7 separate regions of the Homo sapiens genome follow, and regions 1, 2, 4, 5, 6 and 7 are each reported to be linked to region 3. Evidence: microRNA targets listed by miRTarBase, many of them from high-throughput screens and not tested one by one. Region 3 holds a microRNA gene; each other region holds the end of a gene's coding sequence.
Evidence for each region. The annotated mature microRNA hsa-miR-203a-3p reads GUGAAAUGUUUAGGACCACUAG and lies in region 3 at 2,412-2,433, opposite strand. An mRNA with a match to its seed (bases 2 to 7 or 8) in the 3' UTR can be bound and repressed. Matches are read on the target gene's strand: a 7mer-m8 pairs with bases 2 to 8, a 7mer-A1 pairs with bases 2 to 7 and ends in A, and an 8mer does both.

Region 1 (4,209 bases), not on the chromosome of region 3:
CACACCTCGGGGCAGAGAAGGGACTGGAATCCCTGGGGCCTCCTCACTCTGTCCCTTGTAAGTGCAGAGGCTCTGCTGTTCTTCACTGGGGCTGGGCCCGAGCCTCTGTGTGCTGCCTCCTGGGCGGCAGAGGACACACCGCAAAAGGCACGCCATAAAGACAGTGCTTCCGGGCCCCGAAGGAGCAATTCTAGAGCCTGTGCCCCCGAATCCCACCCGAGGAATGCCCTTTTCATCAGGACACTGGGGTGAGGGGCTCTTGTGCATGAACCGACCTCTGGAGCACGAGCAATTCTTTGTCCAGTTGAATGCTTCTAGGGCACAAGGCCTAGGAGGGAAAGTTCTGGTGACGTCCATTTCACTCAGCCACGACTACCCCAATGGCAGCAAGTGGGCCTGGGAGTGGAGCTGAATGACCCCAGCCTCCCAGGAGCCCCGCCTGCGACAGGGGTCTCAGAAAAGAGATGGCAAGGCCAGCATGGAGCAGGCTGGGCTGTCACTGTAGTTGCACACATGCAGCTGGGCGCGGACATGGCATTGGGCAGCTTTCATCTGTGTTTATTTTTTTTCATATAAAAGTTACATGTTTGAAATGTCTGCAGGAAGATGCCACCATCAGACAGGTTAGCTGGGGCATATATATTACAATGTAACCCTGTGGAGGTCGTGGGGCCGGAGCGGGAAGATGCTCCCCAGAATCGGGTTCAGGTCAGACATGGTGTGTGCCTGCCCCTCCTTGCCCCCCCACACCCCGACACCTGCAGGTGAGGACTGACCTCTGCAAGGAACGAGTCCTCCGCCTGGCTCACGTCTGTCTGTGAAGACTGATTCCCACAACCCGCCCGGGCCCCCCAAAGGAACAGACGAGCCACGGCCAGGCCGCAGCACTGAGCACAGAGCTCAGCAATAACCAGGGCCAGGCTTAGGGGGCACAGGGGGCTGCCTGCCATCAATAAGTTAGACATACATCGCACCTTGCCGTCCTCACGCAGGGAGCCCCTGGGCACTGCTCATGTGCTGCCTGGGCCCTGCTGCTCAGAACACCAAGGGCTCCCAGTGAGGGCCTGGGGAATTGCCTGGGCACACTGGGGCCAGGCACAGGGTCTGTTCTGAATTCAGGGAAGGTGAAGAGACCCCACCTCTATCCAGCTCAAGCCCAAGAACAAGGCAGACAGAGCTGTGGACAGCACCCGACCACAGACACGGTTCTGCCTGCTGCTGGAGTGAGAGGCCTGGTTTCTGAGGCTGCAGCATGGCACTGGCATTGCCTGTGCTACAGATGGGGACTCCTGCGAGTCTCACAAATACAGGGAGAATTTCAGTTCACACAACCCAAGGGCCCTGTGTGCAGAGCGGCCCTCACACGCGCACAGCAGCATTCAACAGAGCTGGGCAAGGGAAGGGGAGAGAGAGTCAAGGATTGAAATGAAGGGACTTCAAAAAGAAGGAACAAACTAAAAACCCAACCCACACACAATACTGTTAATAAGCCAGCGACTCTACACACACACTCCTTAAATAATAAAGTGACAGGTCCCGGCTGGCCCCGCAAGACCACCGCAAGAGGGGGTCCCGCCACCAGAGGGGGTCCCGCCTGCCACTGCACGGCTTTCCTCCCTCTATCTACAGGACAAACAAAACACGGGAGAGGGGAAAAAGCCCACATTTTCTTCTTGATAAATGCTGTTCAAAAACCCATGAAGGACTCAAAGTGACATGGTGGTTTAAAAAAAAACCTAAATGATCAACAGATGTTGCTTTCTATATTTTTCCTTTGTTCTGTTTGAACTGGGCTAAGTAAGCACAGTTAGACCCTGCTGTTCACTTGACCACGTCCTAAACCCGGGACAAGTGAGCACTCATTCATGCACAGCAGACCCGGAGGCATGGGCTGGGGCAGCACAACTGGGTTCCCGCAGCGCCCTGCCTGCAGGCTCATGCTGGAGGCCACGGAACCAGGCGGCACAGGGCAGATTCTGTTTGTCAAGCGCCCCACAAGCCTTGCCCAGATTGTCAAGCTCAGCAGCGAGAATGGTTTTGACGAGGAGGATGGAAACAGCATCTGCTCTGGAAGCCGCTCTGGCGTGGGGAGAGTGGGGAGAGGGTGCGCTTGCTGCAGCTGCTGCCTTAGGAGGCTCCTCTGTGGCCAGGCTTCTGCCTCCCTGCACCCTGAGGGACCATTCGGGTGCCTCAGGGATGCCCTTCCCTCCCAGGGGCACTGACAGCACTGGCTGAAAGGTCTGAAGAGCCAGAGGAGGAGCCCTGCTGGCTGGCCCAGGATGGGGCAAGGAGGGAGGGAAAGCCAGGGGATGGGGAGGGACATGAGATGGAGTTTAAGGCACACAGCGAGCGATGGAGGAGGGAGGTGCTGGCCTCTCCCCTCTGAATTAACTCCCCCAGGAGCTCAGCTCTGGCCTCAGTTTGGTGAGGTTCAGAAGACTCCCAGCAATAAAAAGTATTTCTTGGATGATCAAGTCCTCCCTTACTCCAGCCTCCTCTTCTCAGCTCCCCAGGTGGTGTGGGAGGGGCCCAGTGGCCTGGGGTGGGGGGTAAGGGGCGACGGGATGACAGAGACTGCTGCTGCTCTCAGGCGGGCAAGGGAGGCCCTGATGGCGCCAGTACCGCGGGGCAGAGCACCAGCTGCGGGGCTGCTAAGGCGTCACCTGCGTACCTTTCCGGGCCTGCTGAAAAGCTCACACCATCCTCCATGCATCAGAAGGGGAAGCGGAAAGTGAAAGGATCCTCCCCCGAGTCTACTCTGCATTCTGCCCACCCAGCTGCTTGCCCCCATTCCAGGGCCCCTGCAGGACAGGCCACCCCAGGAGGCCTCCACTCATTTGAGATTTCAGAAGATTCAGGGACCCTGGAGCTTAGGGAGGGGGAGCACCCACCACTTCCTTGGTCTGCTGATGAGGTCTCTGCTGCTCTCTCCCTGGAGGGGAGTGGGTGGAAGGTCAAGAGGGGAGAGATGGAAGTAAAAGCAGAAAACAAAACCAAACCAGAAAACCACCGGTTTGTAAATTGGCAACAAGACCTGCCTGCTGGCTGCCCTGAGGCCCACGGGTCTGCTCCCACAGAGGAAGGAGGCAGGAAGCGGCTGGCAGGCTCCAGCTCCCGCCCGGCCCCGCTGAGGGCTGGCCAGCCTCATGGCTCCGAGGCCGGGACTCCTGCCATGCGCCTAACAGGTCCAAGGTCCTCTCCGGTCTGGGAGCTGCCCTCTGCGCCCCTCGAGCATTCTCCTGGATCCCGGCGTCTGCTCCTAGGTCTTCTCTTCCCGGTCTGTTTTTCTCCTTGTTATGTTCCTGGGTTTAATTTTCAGAGACAGTTCCCATAGGGCCTCCTCAGCCAGGTGGTCACTGAAGTCATTGAAGAAGTTTATAATGTCGTCGTTCCTCCGCATGTCATAGTGCCTGGTGCAGGGGATGGGGAGCAGTCAGTGAGCACCTGTGTGGGCTGGATGGCCCGATGGCGCCACCCTCCTGGAAGGTGCCGCGGGGACCATCCCCACAGCCTCGCAGCAAACGGATGCTGCAGGGGCTACCGTTGACCAATGTGACAGAGGGGACACCAGTGCTCAGAGACGGTGCCACCAGCACATGGAGCACAAACAGGGCCCTGAGGCTGGGCTGCTCACAGGGAGGGGGCCCCAGGTGATCCCACTGCCCCCAACAACGCATGCCAGGGCCCGCCCTGGGGGAGCTCTGGTGCCTCAGAGTCAGGCAGGCCAGGGTTTGTCAGGCCCTTCTCACAGCAAGGTGGGCACCAGCTTCTGGTGTGTAAAATGGGAGGACGAGCTGTGCTGTCACGGGGTCCAGGCCCAGGGCCAGGCTAGGCCTGGCATGGAGCCTGGTGGGCATGCTCTCAAGTCATCCTGGCAGAAACTGAAGGGCCCGGACTATATCTCAGCAGTGGCAGGTCCCTGGGTCCTCTGTGGCTCCCCCTCCCCTCGGTGTCCCGGGCTGTCTCTCCTTGTGTGTGGCCCGGGGCTCAGCTCTGCCTGGTCCCCCCGGGGCAGTGGCACTCACGCCTGCTGGAAGCAGCGCATGCTGTCGAGGATGTTGAACTGCTGCCACCGCTTGGAGAAGTTCACTTTCCCGTCGATGTAGTCTGGGTTTCCCAGGTGAACGAAGGTCAGGTCCTGCAGGATCAGCCCCCTGGGAGGACGGGTTAGGCAGCCTGTTACTGCTACGGGGTTTGGAAGCAGCAAGG
Region 2 (4,217 bases), not on the chromosome of region 3:
AGATTAATCATCTTAAAGCACAAGACCGGTATTATTATCCTCTTACATATATATATATATATATATATATATATATATATATATATATATATATATATGTTCTGTCCCTCTAAGAGAACCCCGACTAATACAGAGAGGGAATGAGGAAGCTAGGGAGGGAGAGCATTCCAGGCATAGAAAGCAGCATGTGCAAAGGCCCTGAGGCAAGAAAGAACTAGCAGAGTATAGGAGCGGATGAAAGCTGGAGCAGAGTTCAAGAAGTTGGAGGAGTGGGCATGGGCCAAGTCAAGCTGGGTCTTAAAGACCAAGGTAAAGAGTTTGGATGTTATTAAAAGTGAAATGGGAAGACAGTAAAGGGTAGTAACCAGGAAAGTGATGAAATTTGGAAAAACGTGAGGCAATGTGTGGACAGTGGTGGAAAGGAGCAGTAGTGATGATGGAGAGGCTGGTTTGGGGACTGCTGCAGTGGCCCTACTCAAGCAGGATTTGTGTGAATCTGCAGCCCAAGGTCAGGGTTAGAGAAATACATTTTGAATTTGTTTGCATAAAAATGGTTTTCCGATCATAAGGATGGATAAAATAAACTATGGAGTGGCTGGTAACACATTACCACAAACTTGTTGGCACACATTTCTTCTCTTACAGTTCTGGACCTCTGAAGTCCAAAATCAGTTTCAAGATATCTGCAAGGCCAACCTCTCTCTGGAGGCTCTAGAGGAAAATCCTTTCCCTTACCTTTCCCAGCTTCTGGAGATGCATTCCTTGCATTCCCTGGCCCATGGCCCTTTCCTCCATCTCCAAAGCCAGCAGCATGGCATCTTGTCTTGGTTGTCATATTGCCTTCTTCTGTAGCCAAATCTCCCACTGCCTCTCTTTCATAAGGACACTCATGATTACATATAGGGCCATTATGGATAATCCAGTATAAATTTCCTATCTTCAAGATCCTTAATCATACCTGCAAAGTCCCTTTTGCCACATAGGGTGACATTCACAGGTTCAGGGATTAGGACATGACATCTTTGGGGCAATATTCAGCCTACCACAGAGGGTAAAAAGCGAAAAAGGACCCAGTGTCAAGTTCTGAGGCATGCTAACATTTAGGTCAGACAGAAGAGAAGGAACTAGAAAAAGAGATTGAGAAGGAATAGTCATTGAGGAAGAAGGAAGGCTGGCAGAGAGTCATGTTGCAGAGCCAAGGGACTAGAGACTCCGAGTGTTCAGAAGGAAGGAGCTGTTTCTTGTTGCTGAGAGGTTGAGTAAGATAAAGATGGAGAAGAAGCCACTGGAAATGGCATCATGATTGGTGATCTCTACCACAGCAGATTGGGGTGTGGGGGCTGGGCACGCTGGATTGAAAGCCATCAGAATGGGCTGAGGAATGCATGGGGTGAGGTAGTACAGGCACCAAGTGTGAATACCTCTATGTTCTGCTATCAAAGGAAGAGAGAAACTGTGTCGGAGGGGGTTATAGAGTTAAATAAGACAGCACATTGCTTTCTGTTTTTAATGGCGGACATTGCTGATGGTTTCATAGAAAGATGCAGGAGGAAAAATGGATACCCAAGGGAATGAAGTCTTGAGAAAGCAAGAAGCAATGAGACCCAAAGTCAAATGAAGAGACTGTCCTGCTAGGAGCAGGGACACGTGTATTGTAATAGGAAGAAATATGTGTGTAAGTGAAGGCAGAGTTGATTTTCTCAAGAGTGAGGCTGAGAACAAGGAGTGTAGTTATGTTTGAGGAAACAATGTTTGAGAAGTCATATTATTTGTGGAGATACACTATTTTGTTTCATTTCCTCTAACAAGTGTCATTGGCATAGTCATAGCCCCTAAATATCTAAAAATTAATTCCACTTTAACCACCTCCCCTAGTTCAGTGATAGATAATTTTAAGTGAAAATAACCATGCAAATAGCCACCTTATGTGACACTTTATTAAAATGATAAATGATGCAATCAAACTACTTTGTGGTTTTGTTTTCATTAAAAAAATAAACTGAAAAGAAAAAAAAACAACTGAACAACTTGTCTTACTAAGGTGGGTAATAAATAAGGCATTTACCATAATTATGAAATTATGCAGCCTACACATGTATGAAAACTGTAGAACATGTACTATGAAATCACATTGTCAATGGTTAGCAGATTGAAATTCAAAATCTTTTGTGTATGCTGTTTGATATGACATTCAAGCAAACTATGAACAGAACTATTAGCATTTGCATCCCCTTTTATGTTAAGACTATAGCTTCTATCCAATTACCCATTTCCCCTCATGAAGATGAAGATGAGACAGTGTGAAAGGTCCCTCCACCAGAATATTTCTTAGGTCCTTGTCACTCACTTTGACATTCAAATTACCCACTGCTAAGGCAGGCATACCAGTATCACTCATCTAGCATTGGCATTGGAATCTCAGGGCATCTCGCCCAGAGCTAAAAGCAATTTCTCAGTCTTGTAATAAACAATGTTACTTTTATCAATCTTACACCTACTGTCTAAGCATAGGTATGGACAGTGTAGATTGCCTCATAATGGGTTGAGTTTAGTTGTTCAATAATTTTTTTGCATTTGAACCTTGGAAATTATTTATTAATTTTCAAAGCTGGTTTAATGGTTTAAGAGAATCTGCCACCAAGATTATCTTTTTCTCACCTTTCCTTTTCCTTTTTTCTCCTTCCATGAAGAGGTATGTCTTTAAAAGCCATAGAATCTAGGATATTTAGAGGTCCCTTCTCCTATCTAGTCACCTACATTGATAAATTCCTCCTGATGTTTCTCATACAATGAGAATGTTATAATTTCATAGAAGATGAGGACTTGTAAAGATTCCCTCTAACTGAATGAAAAATCAGACTCCAAATTCAAGCCCAGACTTGCCTCCTGCAAAGCTTCCCTCCCTGATAGAAAGCTTGCTCTAAACTCTCAGGGAGTCCCTGATTCATAAAGGGAGAGCCTAACATGTTCTTTTACAGATTTCAGCCCTCCCACAGTCTGCAGTAGAAATACAATTTCTCTACTTGATTTTTGAAAGTACAAACATTGCCACAGAAACATATTGTAAAAACATGTAACATGAAGTGAGTTGTAAACATTCAAGTATTTCTACAGGTTTGAATAAAAACAGCAGCAATTTTTTAAAAAACGTATAACTTTGCTTTTTAAAACAAGCACTGCACAGGCTATTTATATCAAAGAGGAAAAGGCCAGGAGAGCTGGTTAAAGCCTCCAAAAAATTTATTTGGTCTAATTCTATCAGCAGACACTGACTTAGACATTGCCAAGAACTCCTAAGAAAGATATTTTCCACAGAACCAAGGGATGCATGTTATGCAACAATGTTGAAAAAGTAGTGCCCTTCCAGTTAAATGTCTGAGGCACTCTAACTTTTTCTAGAAGCTGTTCACCTAGAAACTTTGGTGGTTAGCTAAGAAAGCACTGTTCAAGAATTATAAAAGATGGAATATAAAGATATCTTTCAGAGTGTCTCCTATTCAGTGAATCCAACCAAAGAATAGACTAAGAGTTGACATTCTCAGCCATGCCCATTCTCCTTTTTCTGTGTTTTATACCTGAGGATTATTCGCAGCCCATTTAAAAATAAATAAATAAAAGCAAATTGCTTTGGATGATGTTTGAGAGGATCAGAAGGCTGATCCAGGATACAGTGTCAACCTTCCTTGGTGAGTGATGCCTTGGTCCAGTTTCCCTGTTGGCTGCCATCTGGCCAGCTGTGGGACATCACCCTTTCCTGTTGAGGGAGACCAGATGGTTCACAGAGCATCCGTGGGGAGAGCACAGGACTGGACTTGCTGGTAATCTGTCTGCTTCATTGCAGAGCAGAGTCTGAGGGAGAGAATCACCGTGGTGATTAGAAGGAGGAGTCCAATGATGAAAAGGATGACCAAGGCTGCCTTGGCTCCTGTTGGACCCAGATTCTTGCCAAAGAAATAGAGCTGCTCTTTGCCAGGTCGTTCTGTGAAAAAGATAAACTTGTCAGGCCCCTGACATTTTTGAGGGGTGAAATGTTGACTCATTTACATGGGGAGAGGGTATCATTACCGTTAGATGGCACCGTGGCTGGGTGAGATGCCACTCCAGGAGATGTGGTGGAGTAAGGAATCCTGTTGTCTGCACAAAGAAAACAAGTTCATTGTTTTATTAACAACAGAAGGGGATTCTTTTCATGACACTAGTCATTTCATTTCACCAGC
Region 3 (4,217 bases):
TGGAGAGGCCGGAGTGGAGGGGCTGGGGTGCCAGGAAGCACAGGTCTAGTCTCAGCAAAGTAGGGGCCTGTCCTCCTGGTGTCCCCAGGGACCAAGTAGGGGCCTGTTGTAAGACCACACCTCATTGCCACCTGAGGCCTTCCATTGGTCCTCCGAGGCCCTGGCTGAAATTCGGCCTCTTCAAGGATCCCCCACTGGCCCTCCCACCACATCAGCTCCAGTGACAGCTTGAGCTCTGCCCTGCTGAGCACTCAGGAAGTGTGCTGCATCATGTCAGGGGAACCTCCAGCGAGCTCCACGTCATCCTACAGAAGGAAGAAACAGGTCCTCCGAGGGGATAAGGGACTTGCCAAGGTCACTTGCTTGTAGGCATAGAGCTGGGGTTTGAATGCACGACAGACTCTCGGTCCCCTGTGCCAGAGGCAGGGAGGGTGGAGGAAGGTGCCTCTGTCTCTTCAATCCCTCAACCCTCCCACCTTGCCCATTCTCCTGGCCAGGTCCCCAGGGCCAGCCTACAGGCTCCAGCGGGAATGAGTGGGAGCCAGCCAAGGGAGCAGTGTTGTGGTGAGTGGGGGGAGTGGGAGCAGGCTGGAGCCCCTGAAAGTGGGGCCCCTGGGAGCCAAGCCCTTTCCCCAGCCTGGCTCCTTGAGGCAGTGCAGCTCAAACCCGAGGGAGGGGGTCTGGCCCAGTGGCCCAGGGGAGGTCACTGCAACGAGAAAGCTGGTGGCAGAGGCTGGGGGCTTCCCTGGAGACCAAAGTGCCAGAGGCAGAGTTGAGGGAGGGTCTTGGGTAAGGACCAGGCCACTGCCCCTCCACCAACCATCCTCATTTCTGCTTCTCTGAGATTAGAAGGAAAAGGCTGGCTTGCTTTCAAGGGAGAAACCACGCTGAGGCCTGGGGGAAAAGGACAAGCACCCCAGGGACACAGCGATGCTTTGGAACATGTTTATTGTCATCAGTCTAAATTGTACAGACGCACACCGGACAGAATGCCTCCAAGCCGCAGAACAGGGACACAGCCGCCATCTCCCACCTGAGCCTCAGCCCCTCTCACGGGGCTGCTGAGGGCTGAGGGCCCATGCAGAGGGCACGGGGGAACGTGCTTGTAAAATGAAATGGCTACAGGGGGCTGCGGTGGTCAGCAGGCAGCAGCTGGGGAAGACACTCCAACCCCTCCGATGCCACAGACCCACTGGGCGCTCCCACGGCCCCAAGCTCTGAAGCCAGATCCTGAGAGGTGGCCACAATGGCATTTGCTGAGCAACAGAGGAGGCACTGGCCAGTGGTGGATGCTCTCCCGGGAACTCCACTCCCCCCACCTGGGTGGCCAGGGGACCTTGCTGTCCTGCTGCTGGCCCTCTTCTGGAACAGCCCTCCACAGTCACCTCCTGTCTCCTCACATCAACCCCCTATGTGTGCAGGTCGGGCTCAGAGAGGGCAGGTGACTGGCCCAAGGCCACCCTAGCAGGCCTCAAACCCAGGCCTGTCTGACCCATCTCCCAGGACTCCCCGCAGCTCTCTAAACACTGGGTGAGGAGGTGGGGACTGGAGGGGGACCCTCCACCCCAGAGGACACAGCAGGCCAGGCAGCACCAGGCAGAAGACCCCGGCCCCTGGCTGGAGGTGGGGACAGATTCGACCCTTTGCTGAGTCCCTCCCAGGGCCGCCCGGGGCTTCACACGCAGATTGACGCGCACACCTCTCCTGTGGGCGCTAGCTACCACGAGGTTCCAGGGAGGCTCCGGCGAAGGCACCTGTCATCATGGGCGCCGCTTCTCCTCTACCTGGGTGTAGTCTGCAAACTTCCTCCCCACCCCCAGTTCCTGTGCCTCGAGGTCCTTCACGAGTTTAGCGCGCACTCGTAGGAGCCGCGCAGCGCTCCCTAAGGCCTCAGTGAGTGGAGACGCTCCGGGGAGCCGGCAGCGGGAACCATCGGCCGCCCAGCAGGGTGCGGCTGCCGGCAGCCTGATGGGCAGCTCCCAGGAAGCCCAGGGCAAGGAGCGCTCCTCAACCCTACGGGCCCACCGCCAGTTCCTCGCTGGGAATTCCACGGAGTTTCGAGGTGCGGGCCCTCGGGGTGCAAGAGGGCGGCGGCGGCGTCTCCAGGCCGGCAGCGCGCCAGGAGCGTGGGCAACCCAGCGCGCCCCCACCCAGCGGTTCCCACAGCACAGCCCGGCCACGCCCGGCCACCTCCCAGCAGCACTTGGCTCTCCGGCCGAGGGTCTTCCCTGGCAGCAGGTGGAGCCAGCCAGGCCCTGGGGACTGCGGGGCGCGGCGCATGGGGCGGCCGACCTGGAGCGCGGAGCCGGTCCGTGGGCTCCCCTGGATTGGTCGCCGGCGCACCCCTGACTGTGACTCTGACTCCAGGCCGCGCGTGGGACGCTCCGTCGCTGTCGCCGCGCCCGCCGGGTCTAGTGGTCCTAAACATTTCACAATTGCGCTACAGAACTGTTGAACTGTTAAGAACCACTGGACCCAGCGCGCGAGTCCCCAACACCGTCGGTTCGCCGAGCTGCGGAGAGAGGAGCCCCCGACGCCCTTGGGACCGCCCGCGTCGCCTGCGGATCCCGGGGACCGGCCCCTGCGCCCAGATCCCCGCTGGTCGCGCACCCCCTGCCCTGCTGCAGCCACCCGGCCCCGACGCCGTACCGGACGCCTTAGACGCCCTCGCCTGGCGCTGGGGGATCCCAGCCGCCAAGCCCAGCCCCGCCGCGTCCTCGCTGGCCCCGGCGTCCCCTCGTCCCGCGGGCCCCGCGTGGCAGGGCGGCTGAGCTCCGAGCGGCGGTGGCCAGCGCGGCGGCGCCTTTTATGCGGCGCAGCCGCCCTTCCCGGCGCCGGAATGTGCCCGCGCCGCGCTGGCCCGACCGGTTTTTCCGGGCGGGGCGGCTCCCGGGCCCATAGGTCCCGCGACTGATCCTCCACGGCCCGGGGACCTGCTCCGCGCGCCCGCGCGGGGGTGGCCCTGACTCAGCGGCCGCCCCGCCCCATCCGGCGCCCCAGCCTCCAGCGCCTGGCCTGGGCGCACCTGGCCTCCCGGGTTCTGGGTCCCCGCCGGGCCACGCCCGAACCGTCTCGTCTGGGCCGGGGGTGCTCGGGCGCACGGAGGGCCCGGGGCTCCACCTTGGCCGGGTCGAGGCCCAGGGTGGCCGGAACAGGTGAGGACCAGCGCCCGACAGGAGCCCAGGGCCGCGCTAGCTCTCCGGTGGGTGTGGGGGCTGGGCTGGACACACCCACCCCAGCCCCTCTCACTTCAAAGGGAACTTCGTGGGAGGGGGAAGGGGAGGGGTAAAGAGAAAGTGAAACTGGAGGGAGGGAGGTTTCTGCTTCTCAGACCCTGAACCCCCACCCCGCAGCCCACAGGGGTAGCCCCGTACCTGCCTCCTCATTTCCCACGCGGGGGGAGGGACGCCCTACCCCCTCACGCAGCAAGGGCCTGAGCCTCGCTCCCCCCACTCACAGCCCAGCCCCGAACGTCCTGGCGCAGCTGGCCCTGCCGGTCCTACCCACTTAGTCACCTGGAGGTGTCCAGGCCTGACCAGTGGCGCCTCCCAGGGACTCTGCTTCAGCAGAACATGGCAGCTGAGGGGAGGGCTCAGGCTCTAGGAAATACCCTAGAGCCCCCTTCAGCACTTGCCCCAAGTCTGGAGCCATTAGTGTGTCTGTATGGGGTTGGGCAGCAGGGTGGTGACCATTCATTCCAGTGCAGGGCGGTGACACGCCATCCCACCACCCGCCCAGCCAGCCAGGAGCCAAGTGCTCAGGAGCCAAGGTGAGCCCCAGACCAGAACACAGCCACCAGATCTGAGGGACCCCCCAGACATTTCCACATGGGCCGCGTGTGGCTCAACCACCGCAGCCACCCTGGAAAGGGAATCAGAAAGGTTTTGTTATTTTCATTTTGCAGTTGGGGAAACTGAGGCTCAGGGAGGGACAGTGACTTCTGGGGATTGCACAGCTCTTGGTGGTAGAGAAGGGATGACAGGCCTTGCCATCGCTGCATCTGTGGGTCTCAGTGCCTGGGTGTGGAGTCCGAGGGGCTGCGGCATGGGGGTGGGGATGGAAGTGGGCATAGGGGAGCTTGAGATCAAGAACAGGAGCTTGGGAGCTCCTCCCCCAACACAACTGCATGGGCAAGAAGAACCCACCTCTCTTCTTTTCTTTTTTTTTTTCTTTTTTTTTGAGACCTAGTCTTGCTGTGTTGCCCAGGCTGGAGTGCA
Region 4 (4,000 bases), not on the chromosome of region 3:
AAAAAGAAGCATATGGAAACTGAGTATGTAGAAATTGATTTTCTTAAAACTACTCTGGCATACGCCCTAGAAAGTTTTGTGGACCACCTGAGGTATACATACCCCCGGTTGAAGAGTGCTGTGTGTCCCCATGAGGTTTTCTCCAGTTCAACCCCTCCTTTCACCTGTCCATAGGTTATTGCAGCCGAAGGAGAAATGAATGCATCCAGGGCTCTGAAAGAAGCCTCCATGGTCATCACTGAATCTCCTGCAGCCCTTCAGCTCCGATACCTGCAGACACTGACCACCATTGCTGCTGAGAAAAACTCAACAATTGTCTTCCCTCTGCCCATAGATATGCTGCAAGGAATCATAGGGGCAAAACACAGCCATCTAGGCTAGTGTAGAGATGAGCGCTAGCCTTCCAAGCATGAAGTCGGGGACCAAATTAGCCTTTAACTCATAAAGAGAGGGTAGGGCTTTTCTTTTTCCATATGTCAATTGTGGTGTTCCCAGAATGTATAGCAGTTATAAAAATAGGTGAAAGAATTGTTAGCTTGTAAATACTGAGAGATTGGTGATTTATATAAGGTAATCTGTTAGTCTTAAAATAGTTAAAAGTTTGTATTTTTAGATTATTATGTAGTAGGTTAGATCCCTCTTGTTTTGACTTCCACTGACTCATTCTGAACCCCCTAAGCACCCAGGCCAGAGGCAAGAACCTGGGCTGTAACTGCCACCTGACACCGCTGACTGGCTAAATGCTTTGCAGAAAGTGATGACCTTACACCACAACCAGCTTCTCCAGGTCATATGTGCCTTACCTCCAGAGAGTCTTTTTTTTTTTTTTTCTGAGATGGAGTTTCACTCTTGTTGCCCAGGCTGGAGTGCAATAGCATGATCTCGGCTCACTGCAACCTCCGCCTCCTGGGTTCAAGAGATTCTCCTGCCTCAGCCTCCCCAGTAGCTGGGATTACAGGCTCATGCCACCATGCCCAGCTAATTTTTGTATTATTATTATTGTTTTTTAGTAGAGACGGGGTTTCACCATGTTGGCCAGGCTAGTCACGAACTCCTAACCTCAGGTGATCCACCCACCTCTGCCTCCCAAAGTGCTGGGATTACAGGCATGAGCTACCACACCTGGTTTGGAGAGTCTTAATTAAGGAAATTTCCCTAATGTTCATTTATTTTCTAAATCCAGACCGTGTTTCAGAATAATCCTTACTTGAGAGTAGCCATTTTCTTGCCTGTACTTGTCAGAACTAGAGGAAATAGCCAAGACTAATGAAAAAGATTACTCTAACCCTTAAAAGACTTTTAAATTCACTACTAGAGTGGTCATTTTAAAAATACATCCATGTTTTAACTTATTTGAGCCTTCTTTATGAGTAAATGATTCCTCCTTGTTCTGTCTTTCAAACCAGCTAAATATTTGTCACAAAAGTGCTTTTTTCTCACTGTTGCCTATTTTCATATATCAGGTTTTAAATAGTTTTAATTTTTTAATAAAATTTTCTCTACGTTCTATATGCAATTGTTATATATCTATTTGAATAGCTGAAGGACTAAAATACTTTTTTAAGAGATAACTTCAGGAAACCATTATATTTTACTATCTGCATGCTGTTAACTGTGGTACACTGTGAAATATGTTGATTACAAACCCATTCATTACATAGTATAAGGAATTCACAGTATATTGACTATATAGTGTCTAATGATCTTGGGCAGATACTGTCAAACTTACAATATCTATATAGATGTAGGTCTTTTTAAATTTACCTAGTCATTCTTCTATCATGTATATTGATGCTGAAAGAGGAACTGGTCAGCTCCTCTGGACAACAAATTCTTAGTCTATAATATTAGGAGACATCTTCTGTTTTGCAAATGTCTGTGAATCTGAGCAACCTGGCATTCTGCTTACTGGCCAGAAAGCTGGCGGGTGACATTTGTAACATTTCCTCTTTGAGACTCTGAGTTCACCTAGAGAAGTCTAAGCATAACAGCTTTCTTTCCCAGCACGAGCCTTTATAGCTCTCTTTAGCTCAACCACTCTGTCCATCCAGCCAATGGATGTCCCTTCCCCTGTACCCCAATTTCAAGCTTATTTTAGGAAGCCTTGAACTACCATGTATCCTGGCTCCTAGCTGAGTTTATTAGAGGTATGGAGCAGTGCAACTTAAACTCAAGTTGCACTTACATTTTGAATTTTAAAATGATGGTTTTATCTGTTGTGTGAAGTGGTTCACCCTTGAGGACCAGGAGCCTCCATATCCTGACTGAAAACCTTTTCTGAGACTTAGAGTAACAGTGCTTTTGGTTCCTTGAGTTCTCCTGTCTCCAGATACCAAATGACCTTGACTTTTCTGCCTTGTGAATTCGTAGTCCAATCAGCTGAAATTAAATCACTTGGGAGGGACGCATAGAAGGAGCTCTAGGAACACAGTGCCAGTGCAGAAGTTTCTCCAGGTGGCCTCCCTTTCCAACAATGTACATAATAAAGTGTATGCACTTTCACTAATATTTTTGGGGTGAGAGTCTGTTTCGGCCTGTATTGAATGTCTGTGGATTTCCGTTTTCAGAAGTAGTACATTAGATCCTCCGGTTCTGAGCTGGCTGGTTGGCTTCTTCGTGTGCTTTGTGGGCCAGGGGAAGGGGACAGGCTGCTGTGGGCCATCTGCTGTCTCCCAGGTCCAGGCACCCTCTGGTGCACTGGCCCACACATTTTCCCTGGGGAGTTTCAAGATCCACACACACCCTCCACCACCACCACAAAGCTTTAACTGACTTCATTTTCTTTTGCCTTCCTCCAAACAGGACAGGAACCCACTTCTTGCTGTCACCCAGTTAATCACATAGACATAGCCTTTACTTAAAAAGAAACAAATAATGATAAAAAACCAATGTGTTTTACCTGCAACATCTGACAGAACTGTCTTGAATTAGTGGCTACCATTTGGGAGCACCAGTCACTCAGCTCTGTGCACAAATACGTGTATGTACATTCTATCATTTTATCTCAAAATGGTTTGATAGACACTTTATTATCACCATTTTGTAGATGAGGACACTGAAGGCTCAAAGGTTAAAACAGCCAAAGTCACATGGTCGGAAAGAAACAGAGCTGGGATTCAAACCCAGATCTGTCTAATGCCAAAGATTTGTGAGGTGTATCAGTGTATCTTCGTGTGACACTGCCTGCCTCTAGTGCCCCCATCCACACACCACCACCACCATTTTGTAGATAGATCACAACTTTTCCCAAGACTATCAAAGTTCATTTGTCTTTACATTCACACCTAACTGGGCCCTAAACTTAAACTTTTGTTTTGGGCCATCCAATTCAGCCAAAGTTCACTATAAAAAGAGGAGAGTCAATTGGGCATTTGTTTGTTTTTTTTTTTTCTTTGAGATGGAGTCTCGCTCTTGTCATCCAGGCTGGAGTGTAATGGCGTGATCTTGGCTCACTGCAACCTCTGCCTCCTGGGTTCAAGCGATTCTCCTGCCTCAGCCTCCTGAGTAGCTGGGACTACAGGCGCATGCCACCACGCCCGGCTAATTTTTGTATTTTTATTTTTAGTAGAGATGGGGTTTCACCATGTTGGCCAGGCTGGTCTCGAACTCCTGACCTCAGGTGATCTGCCCACCTCGGCCTCCCAAAGTGCTGGGATTACATGTGTGAGCCACTGCACCCGGCCCGATTGGGCATTTGTAACCACAAATGTCATAACACACTGTCCTGAGCAGGAGGAAACCAGTGTTCCATAGACTCTCAGCTTATGTAGCATTTTAAAATATATCATTTCTTGTGATACTCACAAACCTGCTCTCACAGTTACTTGGCTAGTAAATAGTGAATCAAGTGCCTCTTCCTCTTACTTTCAGCAGCAAACCCCTTTTTTCAAAGGTAACTGCATCAGTAAAAGGTTTACGGTGTCTTTTGCCAGGATAAATTCTTGAGTTCACATTTATAACATTTACTGAATATAAAGTAACTCAATGAGAACAATGAGGC
Region 5 (4,217 bases), not on the chromosome of region 3:
AAAATACAAAAATTAGCTGGGTGTCATGGTGTGCACCTGTAATCCCAGCTACTTGGGAGGCTGAGGCAGGAGAATCGCTTGAACCCAGGAGGCGGAGGTTGCAGTGAGCTGAGATTGTACCACTGTACTCCAGCCAGGGCGACATGTCAAAAAAACAAAACAAAACCAAAGCACTCTGCAAGCTTCCTGGCTAACTCTTGTACATTGCAGCAGGGGAAGTTTGATGCCTCTGAGGGCGATGCCAAAGCCAGGCGGGCTGCTGGGGTGTGAGCATGGAGTAAATGCAGCAAGGTCACAGATGACGGATGATGACTGCGGTGGGAAAACCCACATAGCGGCCTGCAAGCACGTCTCAGGAAGAGCTGTCTTGCTAGGGGCAAACTTACGGTAAAGGATGACGCCATCATTTGATAAAATGTTCTGTCATGCTTTTAGTGGCGAGTTTTTAACAATAAAGCAAAACACTCACCATGAACCAAATGTTAAAATCAATGTCAACCAAGTCACATCATTTCCTGTTCCACTTGGTTTTGAAATTCAACTTCTCCTTTATTTAAAAATGACATCAAAACCAGTCTTCTCTTGAAGAGGTAATTTAGGAAATGGAGCAATTTACTGTGGTTTTAGAGGATGTAAAGTGCTCCGTGCAGTTGGACATGTACAGGGCAGCAGCTGGAGGCATGAGGACGTAGAGCCGTCATTCAATGTGGTCCCCGGGCCAGCAGCAACTGCACAACATGGGAGCTCCTTAGAAAGGCAGGATCCTGGACCTCACCCTGTTTCAGAACCTACATCTTTTTTTTTTTTAATTTGCAAAAATTTATTCATATACAAATGTGCAATATCAATAAAATGACCAAACAGGTTTGTTCTTGAAACATTTTCAATTGAATGGGAATTAAATGCTTTTGAAAAGTGACAAAATGATCATACAGTGAAGTTGTCTCTTTCTTTATATAACAAGCATAAATCAAGTACTAACTCTTGATTTTACTCTGAATTAACCATGACATACTAAATGAACTTGGGCTTCAGGCAGAACCTACATCTTAAGGCGAGCTCCAGGCGATGGGTATGCACATTAAGGCTTAGGAAGCACACTGTTCTAGGTTAACAGCTCAGGTCTCTGGGCTTAGCACTACAGGGAGAACGTGACTAGGAAGTGCAGACTTGGGTTCTGATCTCAGGCTTACCACTAAATATCTGCTGTTTCCCACAGCCCTGCCCGCTTCTCAGGACTGTGGGGGACCAAATGGGATCCTTATTAACAAGGTCCTGTAAGATCTGGGTCCAGCCTGCCTCAGACCTTATCATGTAATACTTTCTATTTTGAGTTGGGCTTTCTAACCAGGCTGACCTCAAGTAGAGTTTGTTTCTGCCTCAGGGCCTTTGCACAGGCTGTTTTCTCTGCCTGGAACACCCTCCCTTTTGACCTCTGCACTGCAGCTGCCTCCTGTTAATCAGATCTCAGCCTAAATGTTGTCTCTCCAGTGAGACCCTCCAGGGACTGCACGAGTATCAAATACCTTTGTCAAGAAATAAAACCTCCCCAGGCCGTGCGCAGTGGCTCACGCCTATAATTCCAGCACTTTGGGAGGCCGAGGTGGGTGGATCACCTGGGGTCAGGAGCTCGAGACCAGCTTGGCCAACATCATGAAACCCCATCTCTACTAAAAATACAAAAAATTAGTTGGGTGTGGTGGTGTGCACCTATAATACCAGCTACTCGGGAGGCTGGGGCAGGAGAATCTCTTGAACCCAGGAGGTGGAGGCTGCAGTGAGCCGTGTTCACACCACTGCCACTCCAGCCTGGGTAACAAGAGGGAAACTCCGTCTCAAAAAAGAAAAAAAAAAAAGACCTCCCTTGCTTTCCCCTACTGATTTCTCTTGGAAATGACAGCAATGTTACCCTGATTACTCTCGCAGCCCATACCCTGCAAATGGAAATCTGCCAACTTCAACCAGGAAGAAAAGACTGGAATGCAGGTTGCTTTTTATAGCATTTCAAGGAAAGATCATTCATTCACTGCCTATACATCCTTCCTTCCGGCATCACTGTGAGACTCTGCATGCACATTAATTTCATCCATTCCTCTTGAAAAAGTGAAGGACTTAAACCAGAAAAGCGGCCACAGGTCACAATACAAGATGGTTAACGTCACTCCGTTAACAGTGCCTTGGCCAAGGACAGCCAGATGGCCCGGAGGCTGACTTGGCAAAGCTGCTGGAGAGTTGGGGAGGGCTGCGGGTTAACAGCAGGGAGCACATACTTCATTAAACTACAAGCCGGGAGCCGTCCAGAGGTGCCTTCTGCTGCAGAATGGAAATTTAATAATGGTTTATTGGTTTAGTTGTGATTTTCAATTAAGCACGACAGAAATTGGTTTTAAGTCCAATATTAGAGGTTCTAAAATGTTAGTTTACACAGTCTAATGATGTATGACGGGAGAAGGCCACAGCTGTTTTCTTTAATCTATTTACAATCTTCGCAGCAGAAAGGCTAAATGAACTCTCCTACCATTATCAGGTCAGGGCTAAATGCAGCCCCGATCACAGGCAGTGATGCCTTCTTATGAACTACTTCTGCCTGACTTTCCTTAGCTCAGAAAATACTACAAAGGGAAAAGGCGTGCTGAGAGCCTCTGCTGCTCCGCCAAGTGTGCAGAACAAACAGTACAATGGCCCCATCTACTGACACGGGCTAAAACAGCAGACAGGACATGCAGCAACACAAGCAATCCTGCCTCGAGCTCCGCTTCACGCCCGTGACCCACAGCACTGCTGAGGAATGTCTGATGCCTAGTAAACTACTTTATTATTGTCCTCAGGCACAACGTGATACGAGGGGTTTCTAGTATTTTCTCTACGGTTCCAGGTCTTCATTCTTGTTTACGCCTAGTGTGTTTTTTTTGGAAATGGAGTCTCGCTCTGTCGCCCAGGCTAGAGTGCAATGGCACGATCTTGGCTCACTGCAAGCTCCACCTCCCGGGTTCACACCATTCTCCTGCCTCAGCCTCCTGAGTAGATGGGCCCGCCACCATGCCTGGCTAATTTTTTGTATTTTTAGTAGAGATGGGTTTAGTAGAGATGGGGTTTAGTAGCCAGGATGGTCTTGATCTCCTGACCTCATGAGTTTATGCCTAGTTTGTTTTTTTTTTGTTTTTTGTTTTTTTTTTTGAGACAAAGTCTCACTGTCACCCAGGCTGGAGTGCAATGGCACGACCTCGGCTCACTGCAACCTCCTGCTCCCAGGTTCAAGCGATTCTCCTGCCCCGGCCTCCTGAGTAGCTGGGATTACAGGTGCACACCACCAACACCCGGCTAATTATTTTGTATTTTTAGTAAAGATGGGGTTTCACCATGTTGGTCGGTTGGTCTCGAACTCCTGACCTCATGATCCGCCCGCCTCGGCCTCCCAAAGTGCTGGGATTACAGGCTTGAGTCACCATGCCTGGCTGTTTATGCCTAGTTTTAAATTAGCTGGACAGCTCCAGATGCAACCAGAGGTGCAATGGTTTTGTATCGGATCAAGTGCTGTGAGCCCTTCTCCAGGTCAATCACGTAGTCCCTGAAAAAGAGGGAAACACATTTGCCTGCAGAGCTCGGCTGGCCCTCCATCGGGAGGAATGTGCCCACTGTGAAAGATGCACGCCACTCACCTCTGCTCATCTGTGTCTGGTTCTACCAGTATGTTTTCTTGTCGTTCTCTCACTCTCAGAAACACGTAAGAATCTAGATCTGGTTTGGGAACTGCCAGGAAAACAACAATGTGATTAGGAAATCCTCGGCCAACAAAGTCAACAAAGTAAAAGTTGCTGGGAAGAATGGTATGGCACACTCAGGGTTTAGATAGGAGCCCAGCCCATTCCTACTCTTCAAAGATGCAGACAGAGTGGCTGACCAGGGAGGAAACCGGACACGCATTGGGCCTTTTGTTTTCCTCAGGCAGCCTCAGCAAAATGACCAATTCAGGGTTCCACAAGTCTGGTATGGGTCTGACTTGCTCCTGGTGTTATGGGCTACACTGTGTCCCTGCACAATTCATACGCTGAAGCCCTAACCCCCAGTATTTCAGCGTGGGATTGTATTCGGAAACAGGGCTTTTAAAGAGGCAATTAAGTGAAAGCGAGGCCAAGTAGTGTGGGCCCTAATCCAATCTGACTGGTGTCTTATAAGAAGAGAATAGGCCAGGCACAGTGGCTTATGCCTGTGATCTC
Region 6 (4,000 bases), not on the chromosome of region 3:
CCTCAGTACCAAAATTCACAAGGTAAGTAAATATTAAGCATTCTAACTGTAAAAATTGAAGACCCATGTAAACCCCGTCAACAACTTTAAATTCCAAATTAGTAATTCCTGCACTTAGTTCTATAAAGTTTCTTGAATATGTCTTAAATTTTTCTTAGTACTTTCCTAGGATACATACTTATTATAATGACTCCTGACAATATTATATAGCACAGGGCTATGTCATTTTACTAATGTAATTGACTGACTTGTTACTTTCATCTGGCTTTAGACTGTGGCCAAAAACGACAGCTATTTGATTCTGACTGTGTCAGGGATCCACTTCTTAATCCTAACATGGTGAAAAATAGGGATCGACAGCAAGCAATCCTTAAGGGACTTTCAGAACTGAGACAGGTATGAGCTTTTTCAAGTGTAGATATGTCTGTTCTTTATGTGGCGTGGGCGGTTGGGGGAACCTGTTGAACGGTTTGTTTTAAGTTACTTCGGTGCATCCCAGGATTTAACAAAAATATTTCAGTTCCTGTATGTTTGTTAGACACAAATAAAATGGGACTTTCCTAAGACTTGCTTTTACACTGCCGTCTTTGAGTAGTTCTTTCCAGTACGAAATCATCAGACAGTTCTAAAATTAAGACAAGTTTATTGAGTAAAAAAATGCATACATTGGAACGGCAAAACATCAATAAGGCCCTAAAACAAAAAATACAGTTATGCTTTAACAAATTCTTAGCAATGTGGCCCACGCTTTTTAAAAAATTGACGTGTTGGCAGTGTTTGTTAGAACATTGACGTACATCCCAAATAGTAATAAATTCAGTATGAAATTATACGCATAACCTTACTCACCATACTACTTTTTCTCCCAAACTATTGTGACTTCTTTTTGCTCTCTGATTAAAACAAACAGGTAACATCCTTACACCTTTGCTCCATCCCTTGGGCTTTAAAAAGAATGGCTGTAGTTAGTTTTGATTCACTATATACTCTCTGTACTTGAGGAAGAGTAAGCTGTGTTTAAAAGTGCCCTTTTCCATGTCGTCATGTACCAATACCCTCTGCATTTCAAAATGTTGACTCAGATGTTTTTCCCTCTACAGAACTAGAAAATTGTCCCCCCACTTTGGTCTATTTACTCATTTGAAGACAAACAGGGTTACTAAGAGTTTTACATAAGTTATTTCTTTAGAGTGACGAAGTGTTAGTTTACTTCTTGCTTAGTGGAGACAAAAATTGTGAGATAAAGAGGAAGGAATAGGATGTACACATTTACCCATCAATATAGCACCCAGTGTTATTTCAGCAGGACCCTTCTGTTAGCATCTAAGGTAAGGTTAGGACAGTCAAGATAAAATACTGGATGTTGGCCAGGAGCAGTGGCTCAAGCCTGTAATCCCAGCACTTTGGGAGGCTGAGGCAGGCAGATCATGAGGTCAGGAGATCAAGACCATCCTGGCTAACACAGTGAAACCCTGTCTCTACTAAAAATACAAAAAGTTAGTTAGTTAGTTAGCCAGGCGTGGTGGTGGGTGCCTGTAGTCCCAGCCATTCGGGAGGTTGAGGCAGGAGAATGGTGTGAACCTGGGAGGCAGAGCTTGCAGTGAGATTGCACCACTGTACTCCAGCTTGGGCGACAGAGCGAGACTCCATCTCCAAAAAAAAACAAAACAACAACAACAAAAAAAAAACACTGTATGTTAAGGGAGACTCCTTCAGTATCTAAGAGCACTTGGGGGTGGACTGGGGGAGAAGGGATGACTTCATTTACCCCCATAGTTATGGAGTCTTGAGTTCTAAGAAAATTTTCATCCCTATTGATTTTTATGCTAAAAACAGAATCTTACAAATGTGATAGCTATATATCCAAATGAGGTGGTCTAGTACAAGCATTTCTGAAAAAATTTTTGAATGACAAAATTTTATCCTAAGCGATATGTTTTCCAAGTGAATATAATTCTAGTTTAACACAACATTGCAAGTCAGGTGTGCACATTTTACTAACAAACATATATCAATGTGATTTCAGGGCCTTCTCCAGAAGCAAAAGGAGTTGGAAAGTAGTCTCCTGCCTTTAGCTGAAAATCAAGAAGAGAGTTTTGGTTCTTCATTTTAAATGTAGAAAATCAAATCCTTCACATTTGATTTGTGTCTTCCAAATTATAAAATGTGCTCACTGGCTCAACTGTATTTTTCAAATAGCCTAGATTTACTTATTTTTTTAAATGCTCATTAAAAACTTGTATACTATGTAGTAAAATGCTGTACTTGTTCTATACAATAAAACAGATACTTCTTTTGTAAAAGCTTAGTAGTAAAAAAAAAAAAAAAAAAACCGGTTCTTCTGCTCTGTCACCACCTGGGTATTGAAGCCCTATAAAAACACTTTCTACTTACCTTAATATAGTCTGGCGTTGCTGGGACCTCACAGTGTTCTTTCACACTTTTTATGTAACTTAGGAACTGAAATACCACTCATGCATTTGTTCTAAAGTGCCAAAGTTCTGTCTAACTTATTAACACGTCTAGACCCATAACTCCATAACTTTTACTGAAATAACACAAATTCAGTTTAGGCTCCTTCTCTAAATCCTGACATTTATTTGCACTATGACATTTATTTGTAGAAATTGCAATTTTCAAAAACATTTTTAAAAGTTAGCATTAGTAACAAGTTAGTAATTAGTATTAGAGGCAGTAGTTAGGAATAGATACGGGTTTGAAAGCTATCTCCACTGTATCTGTCTAGTATAGCATTAATGTGTTCAACAAATGGTAATTACTACTAAGACCACCTCAAAAATATATTCCCATTATACTTCCATTTTGCTAAAACTAATTTAAAAATCAAATTGTTCAACGCCTTTGATAAACAGAAGCCTATCTTTTGAAATAAAAAATTTAATTTCATTAAATCAAGGATTGCGCAGGTACTGAAAATTATCCAATACTCTCAAAAAGTTACCAGAATTTTAGCAATAGGCAGTTTTTACATGACTAAGCCTAGAGATAAAAAATGTGTCCTATGTACATAGTTTATTATCTAAATGAAACTGCACTGTTAGATAAATCTTGAGGTATCGAGCCAAAATCCTGTAAATATTAACACTGCTATTACTGACTTATACCTGTGTAAACACAGTATACAAAAGCCTACATCAAAATAATTCACTTCAACAAAAGTACTTTATATCAGGTGACATTAGAGAAAAAGAAGTAAAGCCTTTGCTGTTTACCGTCCTCCTGCAAGCATCTGATTTTACACATAAAACAGGCTTCAATTTGAAGCCTAAGTACAGGTAACATACAAAAAGTAAAACTTAGAAGTGCCAACATGAGATAATTCAAGTACAATATATGTTAAAAATATATATTTATTTCAATTTTTAGATGCTTCAACTGTTACAGGCCATCATGATTTAAATAAAAGAAAAAACATTTGAGAAAGAACAAGAACCTTTTGTTTAGAGAATGAAATATAAATTGTTAATAAACAAAGTCCACAACAATCTCTTAAAAAAAAAGTTACTACAGTTATTTCTCTTGTGAATATGGCCTGGAAGAATCACTTTTCCCCCAACTTAAGGGAGGTGGAGATTTATCTCTATCCAAGCTTTCAGTATAAGCAGATAAGAAGTAATTCTCATTTTCTTGAGACTGACTTGATGAAAGGGCATATGGTGTCCCCAAAAATGTCTGATGAGTGAGAACATTAAAATGACTAAACTGATGGGACATATTTAATTGACTATGATAAACCTGAAAGTTACTATATGAATCTTGTTCTGTTGAATTGCTGTTCTCTCCTTCAGAGCATACTATATCAATAGAAGTTCTCTCTTCAGAATCAAGGTAAGTCTTATCTTCTAATAAACTGTTTTGCACATCAGGAGACGATTGCAACTCAATTTGAGTATTCTTTTTTTGATCTGTTCCACGTGATCCTTTGGTCTCTTTCTCCCATATTTCTGAATGAAAATTGCTGCATACTTCTATATGTGAG
Region 7 (4,217 bases), not on the chromosome of region 3:
CCTAACTTCTTGTCCTAAAATAAGCCTGAACCTTGTCCCCATGCACTGGCTCAACTCCCATTCTACTTCAGGCATCAGAATCACAACTCTACATTTCTCATCTAGCACTAGGGACTACAAGTTGTGTGGCAGATCTTCAGGCAGCTTCTAGGAACACTCTGGATTGAAGTGGAAAGGAAGCATTTCCTGATTTCATTTTCTAGCTGTCTTTCCTACTCAGGTTCTTTGGGCCATGGGTCATTTCCTAGTGTGGACAGCTCCATAAGCTGTGTGGAGTGTCAGGCAAGGCTGAGCGGATTCCAATATGGGAGAAAGATGCACGGTGCAGGCGCAGACCCAGAGCCCAGCCAGGGTCAGTGTCCCAATGGGAACAATAAGGATCTAGGAGGAAGTGGAACCGGAAGCTGGCTGCTTGCCCAACTGTGGGGTCACTTGGGCTGCGATTTCACCTCCATTTTCTCCTTTGGCTCCTCCATGCCGCAGATGAATTATTTTCACTGAAAATGAAATGCCTATGGCTACAGCCCCACTGAAAGTGACAATCCACGGCAGGGCCCAGGCACTAGGGGCAGGGGAGACTAGGACAATGAAAGACAAATCAAAGTAACTTCCAAATCATGCCATTTATTTTTCCTTAATGGATTTTACAGCTCATCTGAGTCTCTGCTGTGTTCTCTGAGGAGCTGTAGAATTTGTGTCGATGCTCTGTGTCCTCCGTCCTTCCCCAAATGAGCACATATGCAGGGCAGGCAAGAGCATGCTGGATTTGTCTTAGTTGTTAATTCACCTTCTGGCTTCACTGTGACACACATTTATCTCTACATGACATTCTCAAGAAAAATGATTAGGACAGAATCACAGCAAGGAGTGTGGAAGAGGGAGTTTTTTTAAAAAGTCAGTTAAAGAGAAGCAATGAACCACGAGGGTCCTTTAGGTAAAGGACCCCCACTCCTCATCTCTTCCTCTTCATTCTTGATCTTTCAAAAAGAAGCACAGGAAGAGGACTAGGCTAGCAAGGGTGCTGGTAGGCTGCATGGTGCCTCTGTACCCATTAATACCTGTTAACAAAAGGCACCCCTTCCTGCAGGAGGTGTAGCCCTTTCCATGGGGCAAGGCTTGGAGGGGATGAAATATCCTCCAAGAGTTCAGAATCCCCTATGGGCCCTGATGCTGATGGAGATCAGAGCCTCTCACAAGGAGGTCCCAAGCTGGTGACCTGGGAAGGGAGGCACTGATGCTCTGCCTGGCTGCCAGGGGTGTCCTTTCACCACCCCACACACAATCTACTCCTTGCATCTTGGACTCTGTTTTACTTCACAGGGCAGGGATGCAAACACGAAGGAAAGAGGTGTGGCACAGGCACAGTTTTAATGTGCAAACCCTTCCTAATGCAGGATCCCCATTGAACGGCCTGGGACCTGGCTGCCTTTGATGATGTCATATCTCATCTCATGAACCAAGATGGCAGGAATTCTCTGCAGCCAACCTTGACAGGAAATCATCCTGGAAATCCGCTGCTTCCTTAATTCATGCAAGAAACAGGGAGAAGGGGTATGGTCCTCTCATGAATGTTGTGCCATTCAGTTGAGACGTGTCACGGGTTCACCTGACAGCTCAGGGACTAAGGCTGGGTGGACGTCATTTATTAAGTATATTACAGGGCTGCAATTCACCAGCTACCAAGTTGGACTCTTTGCTCTGGAAATTTAATGTGTGGCAGCTGCGTGCAGCCGGTGATGTCCAGCATTTTAAAAAGGTCAATTAAGAAACGGTTGATGGTGGTGCAGCTAATGACAGCCCAGGGGGGTGAGCAGGGCGCAGTAAACAGAAGGGCTGAGACATATATTACTGGAATTGAAGTGTCCCAGTGAAGCGTGGTGGGGAGGAAATCTATTGTCACAAGCCATAAAGCACATCTGAGTTTTGCAGCGGAGAGCAGTACAGCTGTTTCCCTCCCCAGGCAGCGCTGGGAGCAGCCAGTGAATGGAGGGCTCGCCTACAAAGGGGACACCTGCATCAGCTCCATCAATTTGCAGACAAAAATCGCTACCCTCCTCGCTGCCTGTTCCTTTGCACTTCTCGTTTTCCCACTTGGAACACAAGGCAGATGCTGGAGTGATACTCAGAATGTGGGTCATGTTCTAGAATTCCATATTTTAAGCATTCCGGAAGCAGGGCTCCGCCCCTCCTCGCTGCGTGTGGGCGGGCGGACAGCCGGGAGCCTGAGAGTCAACCCCAGCCAGCGCTCTCCTCAGAAGACATCCGCTCCTGCCTCGGTGCGCGCACAATGCAGGCTGCGGATCAGACCCTTTACACTGCGACGGATAAAAGAGGGACACGAAACCCTTAGAAAAAGTCTATTTCGGACTGTGACAGAATTGGCTCATGGTTGGGGGAAGGCACTGTGTGGGGCTCCTTTTTAAAGAATCAGACAAAGGGGTCTTAGAATAAGTGCAGGGCTGCTAGGACAGGCTTTTTTTTTTTTTTTTTTTTTTGCCACATCTACCTGTCAAGCTAGAAATTCAATAGAGCAATGGGAATGCTAATTGACATGCAAAACAGGTCTAGGGTTCCTAGAAATGTCTAATGATCCTCCAATTCATTACGAATCCCGAATTAAGACATGCACTAAATGAGATGGGAGTGAGAACAGCAACCTTTTTGCTTTTCCTTTTTTTCCTTTTAAAACCTGCTTTGGGAAACTTCACAGGTTTTATCATTAAAAAAAGAGTATTGCAATCAGTGGGTTTTGTCTTTCACACACTGGATGTTTATTATTAGAAAATAGCTTCTATCAGCTGTCAGTACCAAACAAGTTGAAAGGAGCGAGCTTCTCACCATATTTTTTTTTCTCCTTAATGATATTTAAATAAACAGCTCACTGTGTGAGCTCACGCCCTTTTTCCCTTTAAAAACTGAATAATTAAATGAAGTTTAGTACAAAACATTCTTCAAATATGACTTGTTCTGCATCTGTTATGCTGTCTCCTTGAGTAATGGACGCGAAAGAGATGAAAAAGACCACTCAGGCTACCAAAGTACCCCAAAGAATCCATACGAGAAACTGAGAAACAAACTAACTCAAATAAGACCCAACCAAACCAAGAAACCAGTTTTTACGTTGACTTTTTGATTTTGATTATCATCTAAGTTTAATATATATATATATGTGTGTGTGTTTGAAATAGTAATAAAAAAGGAAGAATTGAATTGCATCCGTAGCAGGACAACCTTCCTCATACGTTAAAGAGGTGTTCAGAAAATTCCATACAGTATCTGCTAAATAAACATGTTTGGCAGCTTAGCAAATATCATATGATTGCAGCATCCATCATTTGAAGTAAAACAGCATTTGCTTTCTTCTGGCGGAGGTTGTTGCTTGGAGTGATGTGCTAATATGCTCTGGATGTTCTTAGACCCACAGGCTTAAGGAAGGGCTTGGGGGTCGCTCAGTGCATGACCCCAGTGCAGACACTTCCAAACCCCAAACAATGAATCAAACAACCAACCAACCATACAAACATCAAACAACTGTCTCCTTTGAGTTCCTCTTGACCGAATGGAGGCCCAGCAAGGACGGCTGGTTAGAAGGTACATTGACAGACTTTGGAATGAGGAGAATCACCCTCTGATTGGTCCGACGCCACTCGTTGTACAATCGACAGTGGTACCTAAATGACACCTGGGGATGGGAGAGGAAAAGTAAGAGAAAAGAATTCAGGTCAGCAGAAGTGGATAATCAATACAAGAAACAAATATGTCATTTGAAAGAGCTTCAAAGAGCTGGAAGCACTATGGCAGGGCAAGAACCCTGGGAAAATGGCTCTGGCACGCAGTGAGTGTTGAGAGATTGGGCACCAGCCAAAGAGCACCCTATGTGTGGACACATGGGCAGGGCTTGCATGGTGGCTTCCTTTGTTCCTCCTCATACCGGGTAAATTCAGGATATAAATGGGAAAATGAGGTTATTTCTGAGTTTGGATTTATTTTCGGACTAGTGGTGGATACAATGCCAGCCCTCGCCCAGCTGTGTGACCTCAGCAATGCGCCTATCAGGTGCCTAGGTTCTTCTCTGTTAGATGAGTGGGATGCTAGGGCTTCATGAACCTTCCTGCAAGTTAGACCCTGCACAACTCAAAGGATCCCATTCATACTATGATATGAAGGACACCCTTTGTACTGTCCTGTGGACAACCTGCCCAACAGCCTGGTGGCCC

Region 1: the mRNA of RAPGEF1 is a reported target of hsa-miR-203a-3p. Seed matches in the 3' UTR shown: 8mer at 1,421-1,428 and 8mer at 588-595.
Region 2: miRTarBase lists HEPHL1 as a target of hsa-miR-203a-3p. Seed matches in the 3' UTR shown: 7mer-A1 at 2,150-2,156.
Region 4: miRTarBase lists STOM as a target of hsa-miR-203a-3p. Seed matches in the 3' UTR shown: 7mer-A1 at 2,081-2,087.
Region 5: miRTarBase lists GINS4 as a target of hsa-miR-203a-3p. Seed matches in the 3' UTR shown: 7mer-A1 at 531-537.
Region 6: the mRNA of TASOR is a reported target of hsa-miR-203a-3p. Seed matches in the 3' UTR shown: 7mer-A1 at 2,885-2,891.
Region 7: the mRNA of MARCHF3 is a reported target of hsa-miR-203a-3p. Seed matches in the 3' UTR shown: 7mer-A1 at 3,180-3,186.

Annotation. Positions count from the first base shown.
Region 1 is chr9:131,576,238-131,580,446 of GRCh38, forward strand. It overlaps RAPGEF1 (Rap guanine nucleotide exchange factor 1), which reads right to left. Exons shown (of 27, transcript NM_001377935.1): 26 at 4,026-4,154; 27 at 538-3,410. The coding sequence ends at 3,260. Among named protein-coding and RNA genes, the nearest start is that of PRRT1B, 33 kb to the left of the region's middle. RefSeq lists enhancers at 2,702-2,751, 2,782-2,911, 3,112-3,191.
Region 2 is chr11:94,111,454-94,115,670 of GRCh38, reverse strand. It overlaps HEPHL1 (hephaestin like 1), which reads right to left. Exons shown (of 20, transcript NM_001098672.2): 19 at 4,066-4,134; 20 at 1,463-3,979. The coding sequence ends at 3,777. Among named protein-coding and RNA genes, the nearest start is that of PANX1, 15 kb to the left of the region's middle.
Region 3 is chr14:104,115,685-104,119,901 of GRCh38, reverse strand. It overlaps MIR203A (microRNA 203a), which reads right to left and starts at 2,497; the gene lies at 2,388-2,497. It overlaps MIR203B (microRNA 203b), which reads left to right and starts at 2,399; the gene lies at 2,399-2,484.
Region 4 is chr9:121,337,583-121,341,582 of GRCh38, reverse strand. STOM (stomatin) reads left to right here. Exons shown (of 7, transcript NM_004099.6): 7 at 175-2,596. The coding sequence ends at 381. Among named protein-coding and RNA genes, the nearest start is that of STOM, 31 kb to the left of the region's middle.
Region 5 is chr8:41,541,342-41,545,558 of GRCh38, reverse strand. It overlaps GINS4 (GINS complex subunit 4), which reads right to left. Exons shown (of 8, transcript NM_032336.3): 7 at 3,660-3,750; 8 at 529-3,568. The coding sequence ends at 3,472. All of the region lies in intron 1 of GPAT4-AS1 (GPAT4 and GINS4 antisense RNA 1), which reads left to right. Among named protein-coding and RNA genes, the nearest start is that of GINS4, 14 kb to the right of the region's middle. RefSeq lists enhancers at 119-208, 269-418, 2,383-2,612.
Region 6 is chr3:56,619,506-56,623,505 of GRCh38, forward strand. It overlaps TASOR (transcription activation suppressor), which reads right to left. Exons shown (of 24, transcript NM_001365635.2): 24 at 627-4,000. The coding sequence ends at 3,532. CCDC66 (coiled-coil domain containing 66) reads left to right here. Exons shown (of 18, transcript NM_001141947.3): 16 at 1-22; 17 at 272-396; 18 at 2,027-2,332. The coding sequence ends at 2,113. Among named protein-coding and RNA genes, the nearest start is that of TASOR, 62 kb to the right of the region's middle.
Region 7 is chr5:126,867,110-126,871,326 of GRCh38, forward strand. It overlaps MARCHF3 (membrane associated ring-CH-type finger 3), which reads right to left. Exons shown (of 5, transcript NM_178450.5): 5 at 605-3,682. The coding sequence ends at 3,524. Among named protein-coding and RNA genes, the nearest start is that of LMNB1, 92 kb to the left of the region's middle.